Homo sapiens: one gene and its partners. The protein of the gene in region 1 purifies or fractionates together with the protein of each later gene. This does not show direct contact. Each region holds a gene or a part of one and is shown in the gene's direction. Other genes may lie near its edges.

Region 1 (6,860 bases):
CATCACACTGCAAACGTACAATTCTGTGTGATGATTCCATGCCTGGGCTTGCGCCTGGCCCAGTCCCCAGAACACAGTGGAGCTTGATACCTTGAGTGAATGAGTGGATGCGCCATGCTCTGGGATAGCACCGGAGAAACGGTCCTGGCCTGCCACGGGGTCCTGGTAGAAGAGTGCAGAACACTAAAAAAGCAGCAACCGGCAGATTGAATGTAGGGGGCGGGGGAGCATCCAGGAAGGGCCCCCTGAGGACAGGAGATATAAGCTGAGTTGAGGTTTAACAAATGGATTAGCCAGGCAAAACGTGGGTTGGGGAGCTGGGGAAAGAAGGTTTTCAGGCACAGGGAAGTGGGGAAGAGGCTTTGCAGTGGTCAGGAGCTGAGGGAGGCACTGTGGATAGCAGAGGGGCAGGGGAACAGGTGCTGGGACTCTGTGCGGCTGGAGCAGGGAGCGGCAACGGTGAGCAAGCTCAGAAGCCCTTCCGCACATTCATTGGACAAACACCTGCTGGGCACCCACAGTGTGCCAGGCACCATGCCAGGACTTACAGGCCACTCTAAGACTGTGGCTCTGGATCCCAGAAGCAGGGGATCACCCCAACAGCTGTGGGCTGCCCAGGCCAGAGGAAAAGGAGAGACCAGCCGTGAGGCTTCAAAGTCTAGAATTAACAGCAACCGGCATCTGACAGGATGTGGGCAGGGAGAGAGAGACATTCACCAATGGCCTGGGTGTCAGGCCTTACAGCTGGGAGGCTGGAAACCATGCTCATCCCAGACCTGGGGAGAGGACAGACAACATTGGTGAAGGGAAGGAGAGTGCCCTTTGGGATGTTAAAAGTCCACATGGCTCGGAGCCCAGAGCCCCCATCGGGCGGGCGAGGCCAGGCAGTGAGGCATTTACATCAACTGGCACCAACCACAAACAAGACAGGCAAACACCAGCCAAGCCCCAGTGGATGAAAACTTTGAGCTCCCAAGGACTGGGAAATAAAACCACTGAACCAAGCTTATTATGAAATCAATCTCTGCGAAAATGGGACAGGCTAGGTGTTTAACAAAGTATCGCTCGCTCTCATTTTTTTCTGAACAGCTGGCAGCGATTATATTAAGTTTCCATTTCAAACGCATTTCCTGCCAGTTACACATTTGTCTCCTCCCCTTCTGTACAACATGGATAATAACACGGGAGAAGCGCAGGGCTAGGAAGAGAGAGGGTACAACAGCCAGGTAGGACATGTGTGTGTGTGTGTACACCAGGGCTGCAAGCATCTTCACTCACTGCCGAAAGCAAAACCCCACGTGCAGTCTAATTTGAGGGCTCCACCTAATTACCAAACGTCACACTTCTAAAGAGAGTGGAGGCTGCATAGAGCTCAAGCTGGCAGGATCCTTAAATACTCTCCCTTCTCAGGCACTAAAAGGAGGCATCAGCTGCATGTCTGGGCTTTGAGAGAGTCATACCGTAAGAGAAGGCACACTGATGCTTTTGGAAGAGATTATGAATCACACCCTGCCTTGGAACAGTGCACAGAGGGACCCTGAGCAGGCCATGAAGCCACAATGCAATGCAGTTCACTTTTCAACCTTTGTAGTTTAAGTGGAAAACCTAATGCTTCTGACAAAACTGCCTGATTTAAATGTTCTCACTTGAAAAAAAAAATAATGATTTAAAAAGGAAATAAGACTCCCATTTATTTGCAAAGCACAGTACGGGCTGCTGGGTGCACCCTGCGCCCGAGCACCTGGGAGCCAGCCCTGGACTGCGCAGCCACCTGCGGGCGGAGAGGGGAGGGGCCAGGTGTCCTCGGCCTCTGATGTGGCTTCCACCCTGCGCCCTTTTCTGAAGACACACATCCTAGAGCCCAGAGAACTTGAGGGCTGGAGGGTTTAAGGCAAGGCTGGATTTCATTTCTATGTTGAAATTCTTAAGAACAGAACAGTGTGCCGAGCGCGGTGGCTCACGCCTGTAATCCCAGCATTTTGGGAGGCCGCAGCAGGCGGACCACGAGGTCAGGAGATCGAGATCATCCTAGCTAACACGGTGAAACCCCGTCTCTACTAAAAATACAAAAAAATTAGCCGGGTGTGGTGGCGGGAGCCTGTAGTCCCAGCTACTCGGGAGGCTGAGGCAGGAGAATGGCGTGAACCCGGGAGGCAGAGCTTGCAGTGAGCCGAGATTGCGTCACTCCACTCCAGCCTGGGCGACATAGCGAGACTCCCGTCAAAAAAAAAAAAGAAAAGAAAAGAACAGTGGGCCTGGCACGGTGGCTCACGCCTGTAATCCCAGCACTTTGGGAGGCCAAGGTGGGCGGATTATTTGAGGTCAGGAGTTCGAGACCAGCCTGACCAACATGATGAAACCCCATCTCTACTAAAAATACAAAAATTAGCCAGGTGTGGTGGCGCCTGCCTGTAATCCCAGCTACTCAGGAGGCTGAGGCAGGAGAATGGCTTGAGCCCATGAGGCGGAGGTTGCAGTGAGCTGAGATCGCGCCACTGCACTCCAGCCTGGGTGACAGAGCGAGACTCCGTCTCAAAAAACAAACAAACAAACAAAAAAACCCACAACAGAACAGTGGTCCTCAGCTTTACAAACACCTCCCTCAGCGGCGGCCAAAGAGGACGCATCACAGCAGCCCAGGCCTGCTAGGGGCGTGTTTGCTGGAGGAGGCGTGGCCGCCGTGTGTCCATCCAGACCTGATAGGGCGCGGCCATTGGAGGAGGCGTGGCCGCTGCGGGTCCACCCAGGCCTGCTAGGGGCGTGGCCATTGGAAAAGGCGTGGCCCCTGCGAGTCCACGTTGGCCCCGGAGAGTAACGGGACGGCGGAGGGGTCATTTCCCGCCTTGCACGTAACGGGGGACGAAAACCGGCCCCCAGCCCGACGCCGGACCCTGGCCTCCTGGGCCCACCGACGGCCTCCACTAAGGCCCCCTCCCGCCCGCAACGTGGGGGACAGCTGAGGCCACTTCCCGGGCGGGCCACCCCAACCCAAAGCGGCATGTCGCGGGGCAGCACAGCCTGCGACAAGCGCGCAAAGCTCCCCAGCGGGACCGCAGCACGGGCAGGCCTGGGAGTCCCTCGCGCTGCTCAAGGCCGCTAACCGGCACTCAGAAACCAGCGCTCTGCGGCACTGGAGAAAGCACTTCCCGCCCTCCTGCAGGCTGTTAGCCAGGGGATGCAAGGGGAGGGGCCCCTCACGGACGTCCCGCCCGCCCCTCTCAAACATGGCGGCCACAGGCGCACCAAAGGAAGAGCCCCTCACAAACATGGCCGTCCGCCCCTCTCATACATGGCGCCAAAGAGGCTTCAAGGGAAGCGCCCCTCACGAACATGGTTGCCTGCCCCTCTCAAACATAGCGGCCACAGGCGCACCAAGAGAAGCGCCCCTTACAAACATGGCCGTCTGCCCCTCTCAAACATGGTGGCCAAAGAGGCTTCAAGGGAAGAGCCCCTCAAGAACATGGTTGCTCCCCCCTCAAGAACATAGTTGCCCACCTCGCTCAAACATGGCGGCCACAGGTGCACCAAGGGAAGCGCCGTTCACGAACATGGCCGTCTGCCCCTTTCAAATATGGCGAACACAGAAGCTACAAAAAAAGCACCCCCCGCAAACATAATCTCTCAGGCCTGCCACGGGCGTGGGAAACATAGCGGCTACAGGGGTGCCAAGGGACGCGCCCTCATGAACATGGCCGGCCACAGGCCGACTTCCTGCTCCAGTGTCCCACCACTGGCCCAAGGCCTGTGACCTTCGCCCGCCGCTTACGAAAGAGCCAACACGGGGGGGGGGGGGGGGGGAATCACATGACGAGGGTGCTGCACTGTGATTGGCTGTGCTGACGTCGGACGCCGCCGCGGCGCGCTCTGCAGACTCCGGGTCGCCGCTCCGCCGGGACGCGTTGGCCGGGGCGCGCGGTGCTTGGCTGCGGTGCTCACACTCATGAGGAGCCGGAAGGTGAGGGCTGGGTCCCGGCAGCAGCTGCGCCGGGCAGGGCGGGGACTCTGGGTCACCTGCTGTCTGGAGAACCGGGGCGGGGTCACGGGGTGCCTGTGGCCTAGGAGCGGCCTCCGCTTGGGCCTCGCCCCCGGCAGTAGTTGGGGGGCTCCAGGCCACGCTCCCGGGAGAAGGAGGGCTGCCAGGTCACGCCCCTGTGAAAAGGGGGCTCCGGGCCACGCCCTCGGAAGAAGTGGAGCTCACAGGTCACGTCCCCGGGAGAAGGGGGCTCCCAGGTTACCCACCCCCGCAGAATGGGGCCTCTGGGCCACACCCCCGAGAGAAGGGGAGCTCCCAGGCCATGCCCGCGGGAGAAGGGGGGCTCCGGTCCACGCCCTCGGGAGAAGTGGAGCTCACAGTTCACGTCCTGGGCAACAGGGGGCTCCCAGGTCACGCCCCCTTGAAGGGAGGTTTCGGGCCACTTTCCTAGGAAGGTGGGGCACCCTCTCCAGAACTGGTTTCAACTCCTGGTAGTGCTAGATGCTGCAGAGCTGAGTTTGTGCCCCTCAACTGCTGCCACTCCAATGGACGTCACACAGCAAGTGACCTCAGCTTGGCCCCATCTACTGAATGTGCTAAAAGTGGGGTGATGAGGGATCCACCAAGAGGGTGGTGAGGATTGAAGGGGGGTGCCAGTGTCTGGCAAGGGGCAAGTGCTCATTGCGTGGGTGTAACAGTTAAGGCGAAGGACCCTTTTCACAGTGGACCCGGCGCGGGTCCCGGTCCACTTGGGAGGCTCTGAGCTGCATGGAGGCTCTCCTGGTTTGTTCAAATGGAGTGGCCACTTGTGAATTCCAACTCCTTTTACTATTTTTATCTTTGAACCAAAACTTGTCTCCTGTAGGCACATATACTTGGATCTTTTTTAAAATGCAGTCTGGTAGTTTCTGCCTTTTGATTGAATTGTTTAGCCCATGCACATTTAATATTATTGATACACTGTAGTTAGGTTTACATTTGCCATTTTACTTTTTCTTTTCTTTATACAAGTCTGTCTTTTTCTTCCCCTGTTCCTTCTTTAAGTGGATTAAAGTGAATATTTCCTAATGTAGCATTTTAATTTAATGATTTTTTTTCCACAACTTTTTTGGGTTTTTTCCAGTGCTTTATGTTTTACCGTATACAGCTTAATCTTCATATTCTCCATATACATCTTAAGCTTCAGATTTGTACTAGGTTAATTCCAAGTGATACAGAAATGTTACTCTTATATGGTTATTTTTGTGGTATTTTGTTATATGTATTACATCTGATAATGTTACAAACTCAACAGTACTGTGTTATCATTATTACTTTCTGTCTGTGGTCATTTCCTTAGCCAGCAGGGGTTTGCTTTCACCCACTTTGTTTTGTTATTGGCAAATATAGTACATGTCTGTATATATTATACACATATTACTGTATACAATTGCTTTTTAAATTAAGAGAAGGAGGTAGAGGAATAGGCATTTAAACTATATAAGAACATAATTACCTTTACTGGTGCTGTTTTTGTGTGTGTGTGGTTTTGAATTACTGTCTGGGGTCACTTGCTTTCAGCCTGATGAACTTCTTTTAGTGTTTCTTGTAAAGTGAGTTTTGTTGTTGTTGTTGTTGTTGTTGTTGTTGTTGTTGTTTTTGCTTTGAGACCAGAGTCTCACTCTGTTGCCCAGGCTGGAGTGCAGAGGTGTGATCTCGGCCCACTGCAACCTCTGCCTCCCGGGTTCAAGTGATTCTCACCTCAGCCTCTGGAATGGCTGGGATTACAGGAGGCTGCCACTACGCCCGGCTAATTTTTGTGTTTTTACTGGAGACAGGTTTTCACCATGTTGGCGAGGCTGGTCTAAAACTCCTGACCTCAGGTGATCACTGCCTCAGCCTCCCAAAGTGGTGGGATTACAGGCATGAGCCACCATGCCCAGCCCATTTTTGAAGTATAGCTTTGCTGGATATAGGATTCTTGGTTGACAAGTTTATTTGAGCATGTTGAATATGTTTGAATATTCTCCATTGTTTCAGTCAGTTCATTTATTGAGGTTCCCTTCTAAGTGGCTTTCTTCTTGGGGCTTTCAAGGTTTTGTTCTCTTTCAAGATTTTGCCTTTGATCTTTGTATTTTTACAGTGATGTGTCTGTGGATCTCTTTGCATGTATCCTATTTGGAGTTCTGTTCATTAAGATTCCTGGATATGGGGCCAGGCACGGTGGCTCACGCCTGTAATCCCAGCACTTTGGGAGGCTGAGGCAGGCGGATCACAAGGTCAGGAGATTGATACCATCCTGGCTAACACAGTGAAACCCTATCTCTACTAAAAATACAAAAAATTAGCGGGGCGTGGTGGCGGGCGCCTGTAGTTCCAGCTACTTGGGAGGCTGAGGCGGGAGAATGGCATGAACCTGGGGGGCGGAGCTTGCAGTGAGCCAAGATTATGCCACTGTACTCCAGCCTGGGCGATAGAGTGAGACTCCGTCTCAAAAAAAAAAGATTCCTGGATATATAGGTTAATGTTTTTCTGTAAATTTGAGAAGTTCTCAGCCATTATTTCTTCAAATATTTTTTCTGCTCCTTTCTCTCTGCATTCCTGGTGGTTCTTATTTTGTGTATGTTAGTGCACTTAATGATGTCCAGCATTTCTCTGCAGCTTGCTTTATTTTTCTTCGTTCTTTTTTTCTCTGTGTTCTTCAGCATGCATAATCTATCGATCTGTCTTCAAGTTTGCTTATCCTGCCAGTTCAGTTCTACTATTAAGCCCTTCTAGTGAATTTTGTTATTTCAGGTTTTGTACTTTTCTACTCCAGAATTTCCATTTGGTTTTTAAGTAATTTATCTTTATTGATAGTCTCTTTGATGCAGCATTATCTTATGTTTCTTCTTTATTCATGATCTTG
Region 2 (7,027 bases), on another chromosome or scaffold:
CCCCATCCATTCTGAGAAGCCTACCCTCTCCCCAGGGTGAGTGTTTTTGTTTTGAAAAGACTTCCAGCAGGGCACAATGGCTCACGACTGTAATCCCAGCACTTTGGGAGGCTGAGGTGGGAGGATGGCTTGAGCCCAGGAGTTTGGGAACAGCCTGGGCAACAAAGTGAGACCCTGGTCTCCACAAAAAATAGAAAAAAAAATAGCCGGACCTGATGGCACAGGCTTATAGTCCCAGCTACTTGAGAGGCAGAGGCAGGAGGATCAGTTGAGCCTGGGAGGTTGAGGCTACAGTGAGCCATTATCATGCAATGGCACTATAACCTGGGCGACTGAGCAAGACCCTGTCTCAAAAAAAAAAAAAAAAGACTCCCTAGGGGATTCGTTTATCTTACCTATATTCTAGGAGCGCATCACTTACTTTGAAGTCTTTCTATTCTCAGACTTCTCTTAGTCTTCTCCTTTACTGCCAATGAATGGTCTGGACTTCCTACTACAGGATTGCCTTGGGATGTAGGAATTTGCCTTGCCGAATGTTTATTCCTTGTGTCCTCAGTTCATTGACGCCAGTCTCGAACCTTCAACCTCAGCTTGAAGCTCTTGCTTACTCTCTCAACATATAAATACTATGTGGACTTTCCTCACCTGAAGAATTTGTCAAAATTCCAAAGTGACCCCATGGCAGCATAGCATAGTGGTTAGTACCATGGACTTTGGGGTTAGACCCTCTGGCTCATCCCAGGACTGACTGCACAAAACATGGAGCAAATTGTTTGAACCCTGTGAGGAGCATTCCTTTATTGTAAGATAGTGGGTATGTACCTATGACATTAGGTACATAGGGTCACTGTGCAAACTGTTAATGTCAGCAAGTGCTCCACATAGGGAGGAATTCACTGCCTTATATAAGTTCACACCATGTTCTGTACTCTTCTACCCTCACCCCCTTCAAGATTCACATTGTTCTTGCTCAAGTTTCCCAAACTTGTTTCATCATAGAACACACCTTGTTTTCTGTGTTGTCAGGCACACCAAGTTGACAGAAACACTGGTGTTTTCATCCTCCCTTTGTGAACTAAAACTGGGACCTAGAAAAATGAAATCTTTTGCTTTAGGCCGTACACTGGATTGGATTGGTCCCTTTCAGTTGTTTGGAGTCTTTAAAATATTTGAACCTCTACGGTGTTCAGGGCTCAGAGACAGAGCAGTGAAGAAAATATGTGTTGTTTCTGCTTATGAAAATGACATTCAAGCTGACTTGCAATGTGTGGATTTTTCAAGTAGTAAATAGGTAATCATTTTTGCTTCTTAAAATAGAGAACAGATACCAAAATTACTCCAGGTTAAACTTTGCTTATTCTGGATTCCAAAATTTAGGGGTCTTGATCTGTCCTGGGGCCTTGGGTTTACAGCATGCAAATACCACCCAGTAATGTTAAAGCTGGAAGGAATCGTAGAGATAACCTGGTTCAGCTCTCTCATTAAATAGAAAAGTCCTTTACAGTCACCCTTGGCCCTGCCTCCTAAAACTCAGAATGATTTTGAACAGGCCAAAAAGTGTGAATCTGCCTTGAAGTCTCAACTAAACCTAATGCTGAGTCCCTACTGTGGTATTTGAAGGGAAAGAAAAAAAGCAAAGCAAAACACACCACCCCTTGCCCCAATGGAACTTACATTTGAAAAGTTTGAGAACTGGAAGAAGATTTAAATGCTATTCAAGATCACTGGAGGAAATGACCAGTCAACTCATAAGCAAGGGCTTTGCACAAGAATTAAGAGGAAAGAGAATCAGGAGTTAGGGAGAAGGTGGGCTTGAAAGTAGGGTGCCTAGGACTGTGGATAGGCGAAGAGACAAAGGGAGTCCGTTTCACTATTTGGCCAGTAAAATAATCCAGTATCGAAAAGAGAAATGTCTTGAAATGCTGTTCTTGGTCTTACCCCATTTTGTTTGATAGCCTTAAATGCATTGTCTCCTTCCATTCTGTGCACAGACCAAACACGTCCTACCCAGAGGCATTAAGACAGCAGAAGCTTCGGAGGAATAGAAAGAGGTCTTAGATGTGTGACCTGGCTGCCTGTTTCACAAGGAAGGAAACTGAAGCCCAGAAAAGGGACAAAACTTTTATCCACAATGAGTTAGTGATAGCACTCAAACCAGCCTCCCAGGCTTTTTAAAACCACATTTACAATCCTGTAAATTATTTGGTTGAAGGGTTGGTGCCTATGTTTTTAACTTTGAAATACTTCTCACATAAAGGTTGGGGGGGTGAAGGCATCAACAGTTTGCTTTTATCCCCTTGTTTTCCATTGCGAGAATGCCTGTCCTGAATGTGCCTAAAACAAAGTTCAAGATTACTGCCACTTAGACAGCAGGCAAGCCTGAGTCACTGTCAGTCAGAAATTCTGTTGCTTTGTCTAAGGCACACACTGATTCTTCTGACAAATAGCAAGTGAGGACACACTCACAGACACTAATCCAGGACAAACTCTCAAGACTCATATAACAGAATAGTTAGAAGTTTGGGAGAGCCGGGAGCCTAGCTTACACTCAACTTGATAAGACACTAATTGTTCTTTACCAATTGTTTGATGTCGATGCCTTTAGGTGGCTGGGAACCGAGGCCTTGGAAAGTAATCTTGCCTGCACACCAAGTGGCTTTGAGCCAGGCTACTATAAGAGGCCATGCAGAGTTTTTCTCCACGAGGCATGCAGAGGACGCATGCCCACATGAACATAATGCAGGGTCACAAGTGGTAGCATCTTAGAAAATAGTACAGTTGTCTGGGAGTTTAGTTAGGGGCATTGGGGAAGCAGGGGAAGGAAGAAGCTGAGGGAGGAACTATAATAGTATAGGATAGACCAGGGTCTTAGCAATAGATGGGTTGTCAGCCTGCAAACTTCCCCAACTTGTCGAGTGCCTAGGGAACCTTCAGAGCAGAGCAAGGCCGTTCCCTCCCCAGCCCTTAGAAAAGCAACTCTGAATCCTCTTCTGTGGCTTGGGTCTCAGAGTTTAGAGAGCCGCCAGGTCAAGAGGCAGAGAGCTGGCTGGCATTGGGGAAATATAAGTTAACACAATACAATAAAATGCTAGACTCAGAGTCAGAAGGTTTTAATCCCAGTTTCACCCTGTAAATAAGAGCTGAAACTTGCAGGTTGCTATGTATCAGGTGAAGTCAGTACCGTGATTATCTTCATTTTATAGGTGAGGCAACTGAGGTACCAAGGTTAGTGAAATTGCCCAATGTAAAACAGCTAAGCAAGTAACCAAGTCAGGATTCAAGGCCAGACATTCAAACTTGAGTATGCTTTCTTAACTGCTGTGGGGTACTGCTGGGACAGGTAGCTTAAGTTCTAGGTTCTTCTGTTTTTCTTGGTTGTAAAATGGGCATAATCATATTTTACTCAGAAACTAATGGCTCAGGCCGTGTGCGGTGGCTCACACCTGTAATCCCAACACTTTGGGAGGCCGAGGTGGACGGATCACCTCAGGTCAGGAGGTGGAGACCAGCCTGGCCAAAGTGGTGAAACCCTGTCTCTACTAAAAATACAAAAAATCAGCTGGGCGTGGTGGCGGGCGCCTGTAATCCCAGCTACTCAAGAGGCTGAAGCAGGAGAATCACTTGAACCCGGGAGGCAGAGGCTGCAGTGAGCTGAGATCGCATCAGTGCACTCCAGCCTGGGCGACAGAGCAAGACTGTCTCCAAAAAAAAAGAAAGAAACTAATGGCTCCTCTTTGTTTTTAGTTGTATATTGATCAGTGCTTGTGGCACTGCTGATTTCTGTTGGTTCCTTCTGTGTGTCTCAGCTGCCAGGGACCCCACCTGCTCTCTGCTCTACTCTTGAATGACTTGGGGCAACCACACAGACTTCTTGCTCCTGACCGACTACTTTTTATGTGCATTGGGGATTTTAGGTACCAGCCCCAGGAGACAGAAGCAGCCCTTCCTTAATTGAGAGCTTTGGTTAATTGGGGTTGCGTTGGGTAAGGCTTTTTATAGTATAAACTCTCGAGGGGTGCTTCCTAAGTAGAACTTGTAGTCTGCTCATATTCACCTCAAATGTGGCCTTTGCTGGTATCTGTAGGGCTAGGAACCCTCCTTAGTGACTTCTAAATTCTGGATCCTGACCTAGTTGTCTTTAACTTGCATATTCTGCATACCCTACTACTACTTTCTGTGTTCTTTCTCTTTTTACACCTCTCCAGCGCATGACTTTTATCTTGATTTATTTCACCCTCTTATCGACCACCTAGGTGTGCATGTGGTATACTGTGGGGAACCCAGAGACTTGATTTCATTCCACCGTGAGTGCCCAGTCTAATGGAAGAGATGGTTACAGTACAATAGATGTTACTTCACTGCAGCCTGTAAGAGGTGCTCTGGGTGAATCAGCTGCCAGGAATGTGGACTAAATCTGGGGAAAGGAAGGATGAGTTGTAAAAGGGTAAATCAGAAACAAGCCTGGCAAGAGCTGAGGCTTAGGTGTGTGGCAAGGCCCATGCATATGGAGAGAGATACTTGAGCCCGGACTGCCATGGATTAGGGGTACCCCAACTCTCTGCCTGGCTGGTGGATTCTACATTTTAACAAACCCCTGTAATGTTCCAAGTAGTAATAGCTAGCATTTCGTAGTATTTTCATACTCCTTTTCTCATTTAATCATCACCACTGTAAAGTTGGTGTTTATATAACTTGTTCTTACAGACAAGAACGTCAGTGTCCATCAAGGTCAAGTTGCTTGTCCAGCACAACACTAGAGAAAGGTCAGGGCCTAGGTTTACATCCAGATGCTCTTTCCAGTGTCCATGTTCTTGACAGGCTGCCTTGTGACCGTGTTGGACAGCTGCCAGTGGTGTCCAGAGACATTAGCATAATTCACACCCAGTAGCAGTCTGCTCTAGTGTCCAGGCACCATTCAAGGTGCTTTGTATGTCACAGTTAAGCCTTAGAGCAGTCCAGTGCTGTAGGTGTTTCTTCTCAATTTATAAAAAACTAAACAGATTCTTAGTGTTCTAAGAAATTTGCCCAGGATCATATAGCTATGTAATTGGGGGATTGGGGGCAGGTAGTAGAGGGAATGTTGACCCCAGGCCTGGCTGGCTTTACAGCCCCTGTCCGGCCGGTGGGTTTACTCTTGTCCTCTTTTGGACACTGTGTTTTGCCCTGGCAGCCAACAGAACAAGTCTGTTAATCTTAGGAAGTACTTTGGACACACCCTGTGGTGTTGCTATGGTACCCAGCCTCTTTATAATGACATAACAGCACAAAATCATTGAGAATGGGACCAATTCTTGGTCTGCATTTTCATATTTCTTTGGGAAGATGTGCCAGGATGGGTCCGTGTCTTTAGCTTCTTAGGACAGATCTTTGGCTGAGCCAGCTCTTTAACTAAAATATTTTAATGTACAACTCCTAATTAAACAGGGATGGCTATAGTCATAATTTATTCAAACTTCATTTTTCGGGGTTCCCTCATCCTTTTTCTTAAGACATAACTTTATAATTTTAATATTCTGCCCTTTTCCCCCCTTCACATTAAAACTTGCTTATTACATGCTATGTGACTTTCTCTTTTGGCTTTTTAAGTAAACTTTTGTTGAAGTATAATATGGTCCTTTAAAACTTTCAGCCAATTGGTATTACCATAGTTAACTGTTACTCATTCTCATTCTTGGACAGTAGTTTTCCAATCCTCCACTTTGACTTACTCTGTATGGAATACCAGTTCTGAGTGTCTCTGGTGTTTGGTGTGTGTTTTTTTGTTGGGTGGGGAGGCTTGTTTGTTTTGTGTCTTTTTGACACTTTTGGAATGAATTCCTCAAGTGGGATTTTTCTTTCAAATGGATCGAGCATTTCTAAGACTTCCTATATGTATTGCTGAATTGCTGAAGTGTGCGTAAGTCAAAGTCCTAATTAGTCCTCTGCTGAAAGACAGATCTGCATGTTGTGTGGTTGGACCATCACGAGGGACTGGATGAACATTAAACTCTGGGGGGCACGCATCAGAGTCTGCTGTGGGAACTAGCACATCCAGGTGTGCGATTTTGCTGCAGGCACTAAGGCAGTCACAGTGCTTCTGCTGAGAATCTAGCCTATGGAAACTCAAGGTCCTGCCCTCAACTAGGCAAGTTACTTAATCTTTTGCTCCTGAGTCTCCTCACCTGTGAGAGGAAATGTAATTATTATCTGAATAGATAGCAGTTTCGAGTAACCAGAGAGGAATGGCAGAGCACTCTCTGAATTCTTCCTTTCCATCTTATGTGACAAGTTATTAAATCTTATTTATCCTAAACTTCTAAGACCTTTCACATCCTCTTCTCACCTCCTCCCTTGCCAGCCCTCACTTCACCAGGTTTCAGAGCCTCTTGATAAGTCAGTCGGCCACTAGGCTGTCTCCCATCGCCAACCCCTCATGCCTCCATAAGGAACTTGTTTCATTGTCCAAGATATGCTCTTTCACAGTTTAACGTCTCTGAAATCAGCGGTTGACTTAGTCAATGGTGTGCCCATAGCGTTGTCAGCAGCCTATATGGCTTACTTAAATGGTATGCCTTAAAATTGGTGACTTGTAGATTCTGTAAGCGACACATCTCTAAAATACGTCAGTGGCCAGGCGTGGTGGCTCATGCCTATAATTACCCAGTACTTAAGGAGGCTGAGGTGGAAGGATTGCCTGAGCCCAGAAGTTCAAGACCAGCCCGGGCAACATAAGGAGACCCTGTCTCTACTAAAAATAGAAAAGAATAGCCGGGCGTGGTGGTGCATGGTTGTAATCCCCACTACTCTATTCGAGAGGCTGAGGCAGGAGGCTCCCTTGAGCCCAGAAGGTAGAGGCAGCAGTGAGCTGTGATTGGCTGCACTCTGGCCTGGGCAACAGAGCTAGACCGTTTCAAAATAAGTAAATAAATAAAATGTATTAAGAACTTTCAGTCACTTCCCATTTCTTGGAGTCTAAATCCACCTTAGAAGATATCCAGCCTCATTCCGGCACATCTACAGAAACTCTTCTGTGATTATCCAGACTACT
Region 3 (7,027 bases), on another chromosome or scaffold:
AATGAGAATATAGATGAGAATATAGACAAAGAAGAGAAGAGGTGAGAACTGACTTTGAAAGTTGTGAAGATAAGGAACCAACAAAGGAGACTGAGAAGTAGTAGCTGTGGAAAGAAGAAACTAGAAGAGCCCACTATCTCTGAAGCTAAGTAAAGAACATGTTTTACAGAGAAGAGGTGGTCACCTCTGTCCTATCCTGCTCATAGGTCTAATATGGGTGCTGAGTATTGTAGACCTTCACAGTGAAAGTAGACATCTATTTAGAATGGGCAGTGTTGAATAACAGTGTGATTGTAGGGCACATACTTGGGAGCTTTGCCTGCCTGCTGGGGCTCAGATCTCAGCTCCACCATGTATTAGCTCTGTGACAAGTTACATATCCTTTCTGTGATTGTTTTCTCATCCGTAAAATGGGCTTTTAGTATGTATGTCATAACACTGTTGTTTGTGGTAAGTGTTACGTGTATGGAGCAGCATCTGGCACAGAGTAAGCATCATTCAAGTGTTGGCTGATGCTGTTACTGCTATTGAGGTCATTATTGTCATTATTCCTCTGCCTAAGGAGAGGTTGCCTCCTACTCCATGAGATGATTCATTACTGGAAACTATAGCTATAAAGATTCACAAGTATTGGGGTTTTTGGTTCTTGTAATGGTGGCTTCTGTAGCAGGCTCACAACTTAGTACCTCATCTGATGGATGTAACTCTGGAGCTCTGAGTCAGTGTAAACTGTTGAATTGGACAAAGCTGTGAAGCCTGAGCTCCTGTAACTTTGAAAGAACAGCCACGGAGCCACTGTTCACATTCTCCTTGTGCTGTCAGTGCTTTCCCTTTGTAACATGTTCTCTTGAGATGGGACACATTCCCCAATTCCTTGCCTTTATCTGGTGTGTAACTCATATTTTAATTCACAGCTTTTCCCAATCTTGTGTTCAATAGTCACCACTTACTAAGATAATATTTTCTTCAGCTCCCTATATTTCTAGTATCAACCATTATTCAGATACATCTATACATTTTATTGTCTTCTTTGTTCACCATGTTCTTATATTTCCCATCCCTCTTGGGTTCATATTTAGTTTTGCTGGAATAGCCTCAAGTAATTGTCTCAGACTGTTATATATATGCATGGTCAACTTCTCAGTCCTGTAAGTCTGAAAACAGTTTTTCTTTTTCATCTTTACACTTAAATGTGTTTGTCTCGCTCCTAATCTCAAAAGGCACTCTGCATTCTGCCTAAAATACCCTTCTCTCTCACATTCCTCTTTCCTCTTTTTTGGCTAACTCATAAGTATCATTTAGGCTCTGAATGCCTCTGATCCCCAAGTCTGGGTTGTGTTCCCCATATATGCCCCTATACTTACCATACCATATTGAAATAGCTTTATTTTTTTCTCCCAAGGAGATAGAAAGCTCTCAGAACACAGTGACAGGGTCTGTATTTTTCATTGTTGTAGTCCAGGGCCTAAGGCCCGGAGCCTCGTACATGGTGGGTACTTAGTAGTTGTTGAATTAATGGAATGATGGATGAATGAATGATTTATATAGCTGCTAATACTTGAACATTAAGGCTTTATAATCTAAAATTTTACAGGCTATTCATAAATATATATGGACATTTATTGGTCATCATAATTTTGTACATTTTCTGGAGTATTTGGTATAGAATTTGAATTTGTAATTTCTTTGAGGGTAAGTTGAAGACAAGCCAAAGCAGTGAATTGTAACGCTGTGGTATGAACACTTCAGGTTGAAAAAACTCTTTTGTGTTATTTGATATTTTTGCTACAGAATCGATGATGAAATAGATACAGAAGTTGAAGAAACACAAGAAGAGAAAATTAAACTGGAGTGCGAGCAAATTCCCAAAAAAGTAAGATTAAGTTGACCACTGTTTAAGTTGAAAACGCAGATTTTTTTTTCTCAGTTTCACATGGAACAACAAAAAAAGAAAAAACAGATGGAAATGGATATGAGAAATTAATGAAGGATCCTACTTGTCTCATTTTACCAGCATTTGGGACCCAGTTACTTATATCAAAGAAAACTGGTTATACTTTTTAAATAAATTATTATTTAATAACTTTATTGTCATTTAACATGACATATGTTTAATAATTGCATTTATTTCTATTTTTGTTATTTCTGAAATGGACTGTAAACAGTTTCAAAAGCTTCTTTCAAGTTGGGTTAACATTTTTGAGGGTTATGATTTGTTAACTTAACCAACCTTAGTGATTTATAGCTTAAAGCCCGTATTAGTTCATTAGGGCTGCCATAACAAAGTACCACAGACTGGGTGGCTTAAACAACAGAACTTGGCTGGGCGCGGTGGCTCACGCCTGTAGTCCCAGCACTTTGGGAGGCCGAGGTGGATGGATCATGAGGTCAGGAGTTTGAGACCAGCCTGGCCAATATGGTGAAACCCATCTCTACTAAAAATACAAAAAAATTTAGCCAGGCATGGTGGCATGCACCTGTAGTCCCAGCTACTAGGGAGGCTGAGGCAGAAGAATCACTTGAACCCAGGAGGTGGAGGTTGCAGTAAGCCAAAATCCCGCCACTGCACTCCAGCCTGGGCAACAAAGCGAGACTCCGAATCAAAACAAAAACAAAAACAAAAAAAACCCCAGAACTTTATTGTCTCAAGGTTCTGGAGGCTGGAGGTCCCAGCACAAGGTGTTGGCAGGGTTGGTTCCTTCTGAGGCTGTGGGGAAGAATCTATTCATTCATCTCCCCTAGCTCCTGATGGAATGCTGGCAATCTTTGGTGATGGCTTGCAAAAGTATCATCCTGATTTCTGCCTTCATATTCACATGGTGTTCTCCCTGTATGCCTGTGTCTGAATTGTCTGAATTTCCTTTTTTTGAGACAGAGTCTTGCTCTGTCACCCAGGTTGGAGTGCAGTGGCACAATCTCTGCTCACTGCAACCTCCTTCTGGACTCAAGCAATTCTCAGCCTCCCAAGTAGCTGGGATTACAGGTGTGCACCACCACGCCCAGCTAATTTTTGTGTTTTTTGTAGAGAAAAAATATACATGGGGTTTCGCCATGTTGCCCAGGCTGGTCTCGAACTCCTGGGGTCAAGCGATCTGACCGCCTCGGCCTCCCAAAGTGCTGGGATTACAGGCCTGAGCGACTGTGCCCGGCTGAATTTTCCTTTTTTATAAGGAAATCAGTCACTGGACTAGGGCCCACCCTAATGACCTAATCTTAATTAATTACACTTGCAATGACCCTATTTCCAAAAAAGGTCACATTCTGAGGTATTAGGGGTTAGTAGTTCATTATAAGAATTTTGGGAGGGTGCAGTTCAACCCATAACAAAGGTAATGTATATTCCTATCTTGCCCTTCTTTTCTGTTTTTGAACATGGAGAAACGCCATCTCTACTAAAAATACAAAATTAGCCAAGCATGGTGGCAGGCACCTGTAATCCCAGCTACTCAGGGAGCTGAGGCAGGAGAATCGCTTAAACCCGGGAGGCAGAGGTTGCGGTGAGCCGATATCATGCCATTGCACTCCAGCCTGGGCAACAAGAGCAAAATTCCATCTCAAAAAAAAAATGAGTTTTAACACACTATAGAAGAATGGGTTAAATTGTCACTGAGACTTATAAGACAGAAATAGACTTTAATAGTGTATCTTTTACTTAGCTTTCTTGCTTGCTTGCTTTTTCTTTTTCTTTCTTTCTTTTTTTCCTTTTCTTTTTCTTTTTCTTTCTTTTCTTTCTTTCTTTCTTTTCTTTCTGTCTCTGTTGCCCAGGCTGGAGTGTGGTAGCATGATCTTGGCTCACTGCAACCTCCTTCTCCTGGGTTCGAGCAGTTTTCCCACCTCAGCCTCCCGAGTAGCTGGGACTACAGGCACACGCCACCACACCTGGCTAATTGTTGTATTTTTAGCAGAGACAGGGTTTCATCATGTTGCCCAGGCTGGTCTCAAACTCCAGAGCTCAAGTGATCTGCCAGCCTCGGCCTCCCGAAGTGCTAGGATTATAGGTGTGAGCCACCATGCCCAGCCTCCTTAGTTTTATAAAAGAATACAGGACAGATGATAAAGCAGGTACAGTATCTTCATCTTCTTGGAAGCCTCTCAGCTACCCAAGTAAGCAACTTCTTTTCCCCTTTGGGGCCTATGTGGCTTCCAAAGATGAGAGCCAAGGTTGACGACAAGAAATTGCAACTTCAACTTCCCACAAGTTTTTTATACTGCTTGAGTCACATAGGCCTCAGTCTTTTATGCCCACTTTTAGCTCCTCCAGACTTCGTATTATATATTATAACCTTCCACAGCAGACAGGCAGAAACAACATTCTACAACTGTCTTACATAGTTTCTGCAAAACAGTACTGTGAGAAGATGGACTCCTAGGTTATTCTCAACCAGGCTTGCTTCAGTGCAGCCTCTTCACTCACAAGTATGTAAAAGGTGAATACATTATCAAATAAATATCACAGCTAATTAATTAATTAACTTATTTATTTTTGAGACAGAGTCTCACTCTGTTGCACAGGCTGCAGTAAAGTGGCAAAATCTTGGCTCACTGCAACCTCCACCTCCCAGGTTCAAGCAATTCTCCTGCCTCAGCCTCCCGAGTAGTTGGGAATACAGGTGCCTGTCACCCACCTTGCCTGGCTAATTTTTGTATTTTTAGTAGAGATGGGTTTTTGCCATGTTGGCCAGGCTGGTCTCGAACTCCTGAGCTCAAGTGATTGGCCCGCCTCAGCCTCCCAAACTGCTGGGATTACAGGTGTGAGCCACCATGGCTGGCTATAGCTTATTTAAAAGAGAATACCCAGGTAAACACTTTGCAAGTTAAGAAAGAGCATTACCTCAGATTTTGAGGGTTTGATTTCATACCACCACAATAAAACAAATATTGCAGTAAAGCTAGGCACAAGAATGTTTTGGTTTCCCAGTGCATATAAAAGTTACATTTATACTATACAGTACTCTGTTAGGTGTCCAATACCATTATATTTTAGAAAACAGTATATATCTTAATTAAAAATTCTTTGTTGCTAAAAAATGTTAACAGTCAGCGAGTCATCTTTTTGATGGCAGAGGGTCTTGCCTCAGTGTTGATAGCTGCTGAGGGTGGTGACTGCTAAACACTGAGGTGGCTCTGGCAATTTCTTAAAATAGGACAGCAGTAAAGTTTGTCACCTCAATTGACTTCTCCTTTTACAAAATATTTCTCTGTAGTATGTGATGCTGTTTGATAGCATTTTACCCACAGTAAAAATTTCAAAATTGGAGTCAATCCTCTCAACCCCTGCCACTGCTTTATCAACTAGGTTTATATAATATTCTAAATCTGTTGTCATTTCAACAATGTTCATAGCATCTTCACCAGAAATAGATTGCATCTCAAGAAACCACATTGTTCACTTGTAAGAAGCAGCTCCTCATCTGTTCAAGTTTGATCATGAAGTTGCAGCAATTCAGTCACGTCTTCATTCTCCACTTCTAATTCTAGTTCTCTTGCTTTTCCACCACACCTGCAATTACTTCGTCTACTGAAGTCTTGAACTCCTCAAAGTCATCCCTGAGGGTTGCAATCACCTTCTTTCAAACTCCTGTTATTGTTGATATTTGACCTTCTGCCATGAATCACGAATGTTCTTAATGTCAGCTAAAATGGTGAATCCTTTCTAGGTTTTCAATTTACTCTGCCCAGATCCATCAGAGAAATCACTTTCTATGGCTACTATAACCTTAAAAAGTGTATTTTGTATTTATTTCTTAAATAAGACTTGAAAGTCAATTATTCCGTGATCCATAAGCTGCAGAATGGTTGTTGTGTTTGTGGACATGAAAACATTCATCTCCATCAGAGCTCTTGGGTGACTGGGTGCATTGTCAATGAGCAGTAGTATTTTGAAAAGGATATTTTTTCTGAGCAGTAGGTCTCAACAGTGGGCTTAAAATAGTCAGTAAACCATGCTGTAAACAGATATACTGCCATCTGGGCTCTGTTGCTCCATATATAGAGCACAGGCAGAGTATATTTAGCATAATTCTTAAGGGCCCTAGAATTTTCAGACTGGTAAATGAGCATTGGTTTCAACTTAAAGTCACCAGCTGCATTAGCTCCTAACAAGAGTTAGCCTATCTTTTTGAAGCCTTTTAAAGTATTTTATTTGTATAAATTTACGGGGTGCAAGTGCAATTTTGTTACATGCATAGATTGTAGTGGTGAAGTCAGGGTATTCTTTGAAGTGAGGTATTGACTTCTCTCTAGTTATGAAAGTCCCAAGTGGCATCTTTTTCCAACATAAGGCTGTTTCATTTACATTGAAAATCTGTTGTTTAGTGTGGCCACCTTCATCAATGATCTTAGCTAGATCTTCTGGATAATTTGCAGCTTTTACATCAGCACTTGTTGCTTCATCATGCACATTGCTTTTTGAGATGGAGTCTTGCTCTGTCACCCAGGCTGGAGTGCATTGGCATTACCTTGGCTCACTGCATCGTCTGCCTCCTGGGTTCAAGCGATTCTCCTGCTTCAGCCTCCTGAGTAGCTGGGACTACGGGTGTGCACCATCACACCCAGTTAATTTTTGTATTTTTAGTAGAGACGGGGTTTCACTATGTTGGCTAGGCTGGTCTTGAACCCCTGGCCTCAAGTGATCTGCCCGCCTCGGCCTCCCAAAGTGCTGGGATTATAAGCGTGAGCCACCGCGCCTGGCCTGTCATGCACTTTTTATGTGATGGAGACATCGTCTATCCATAAACCTCAAGAACCAACCTCTGCTAACTTCAGACTTTCCTTCTGCAGCTTCCTCACCTTTTTCCACCTTCATAGAATTGAAGAGAGTTAGGGCCTTGCCCTGGATTAGGCTTTGGCTTAAGGGAATGTTATGACTGGTTTGATCTTCTATCCAGACCAATACAATTTCTCTGTATCAGCAATAAGGCTGTTTTGTGTTCATATCATTAGTGTGTTCACTGGAGTAGCACTTTTACTTTCCTTCAGGAACCTTCCCTTTGCATTCACAAGTTGGCTATTTGGCTTACGAGGCCTA

The links. The genes of interacting proteins can lie anywhere in the genome.
Region 2: the proteins of C1orf174 (region 1) and STK35 purify together in Homo sapiens (affinity purification with mass spectrometry; 4 studies listed by BioGRID and IntAct, with this or other methods). This does not show direct contact.
Region 3: the proteins of C1orf174 (region 1) and ZC3H8 purify together in Homo sapiens (co-immunoprecipitation; 2 studies listed by BioGRID and IntAct, with this or other methods). This does not show direct contact.

What each region holds. Positions count from the first base shown.
Region 1 is NC_000001.11:3,897,267-3,904,126, reverse strand, and holds the start of C1orf174 (UPF0688 protein C1orf174), read left to right. Parts: upstream 1-3,854; 5' UTR 3,855-3,940; coding exon 3,941-3,955; intron 3,956-4,545; exon of another isoform or gene 4,546-6,860.
Region 2 is NC_000020.11:2,104,806-2,111,832, forward strand, and holds part of STK35 (serine/threonine-protein kinase 35), read left to right. Parts: intron 1-7,027.
Region 3 is NC_000002.12:112,245,037-112,252,063, reverse strand, and holds part of ZC3H8 (zinc finger CCCH domain-containing protein 8), read left to right. Parts: intron 1-1,791; coding exon 1,792-1,873; intron 1,874-7,027.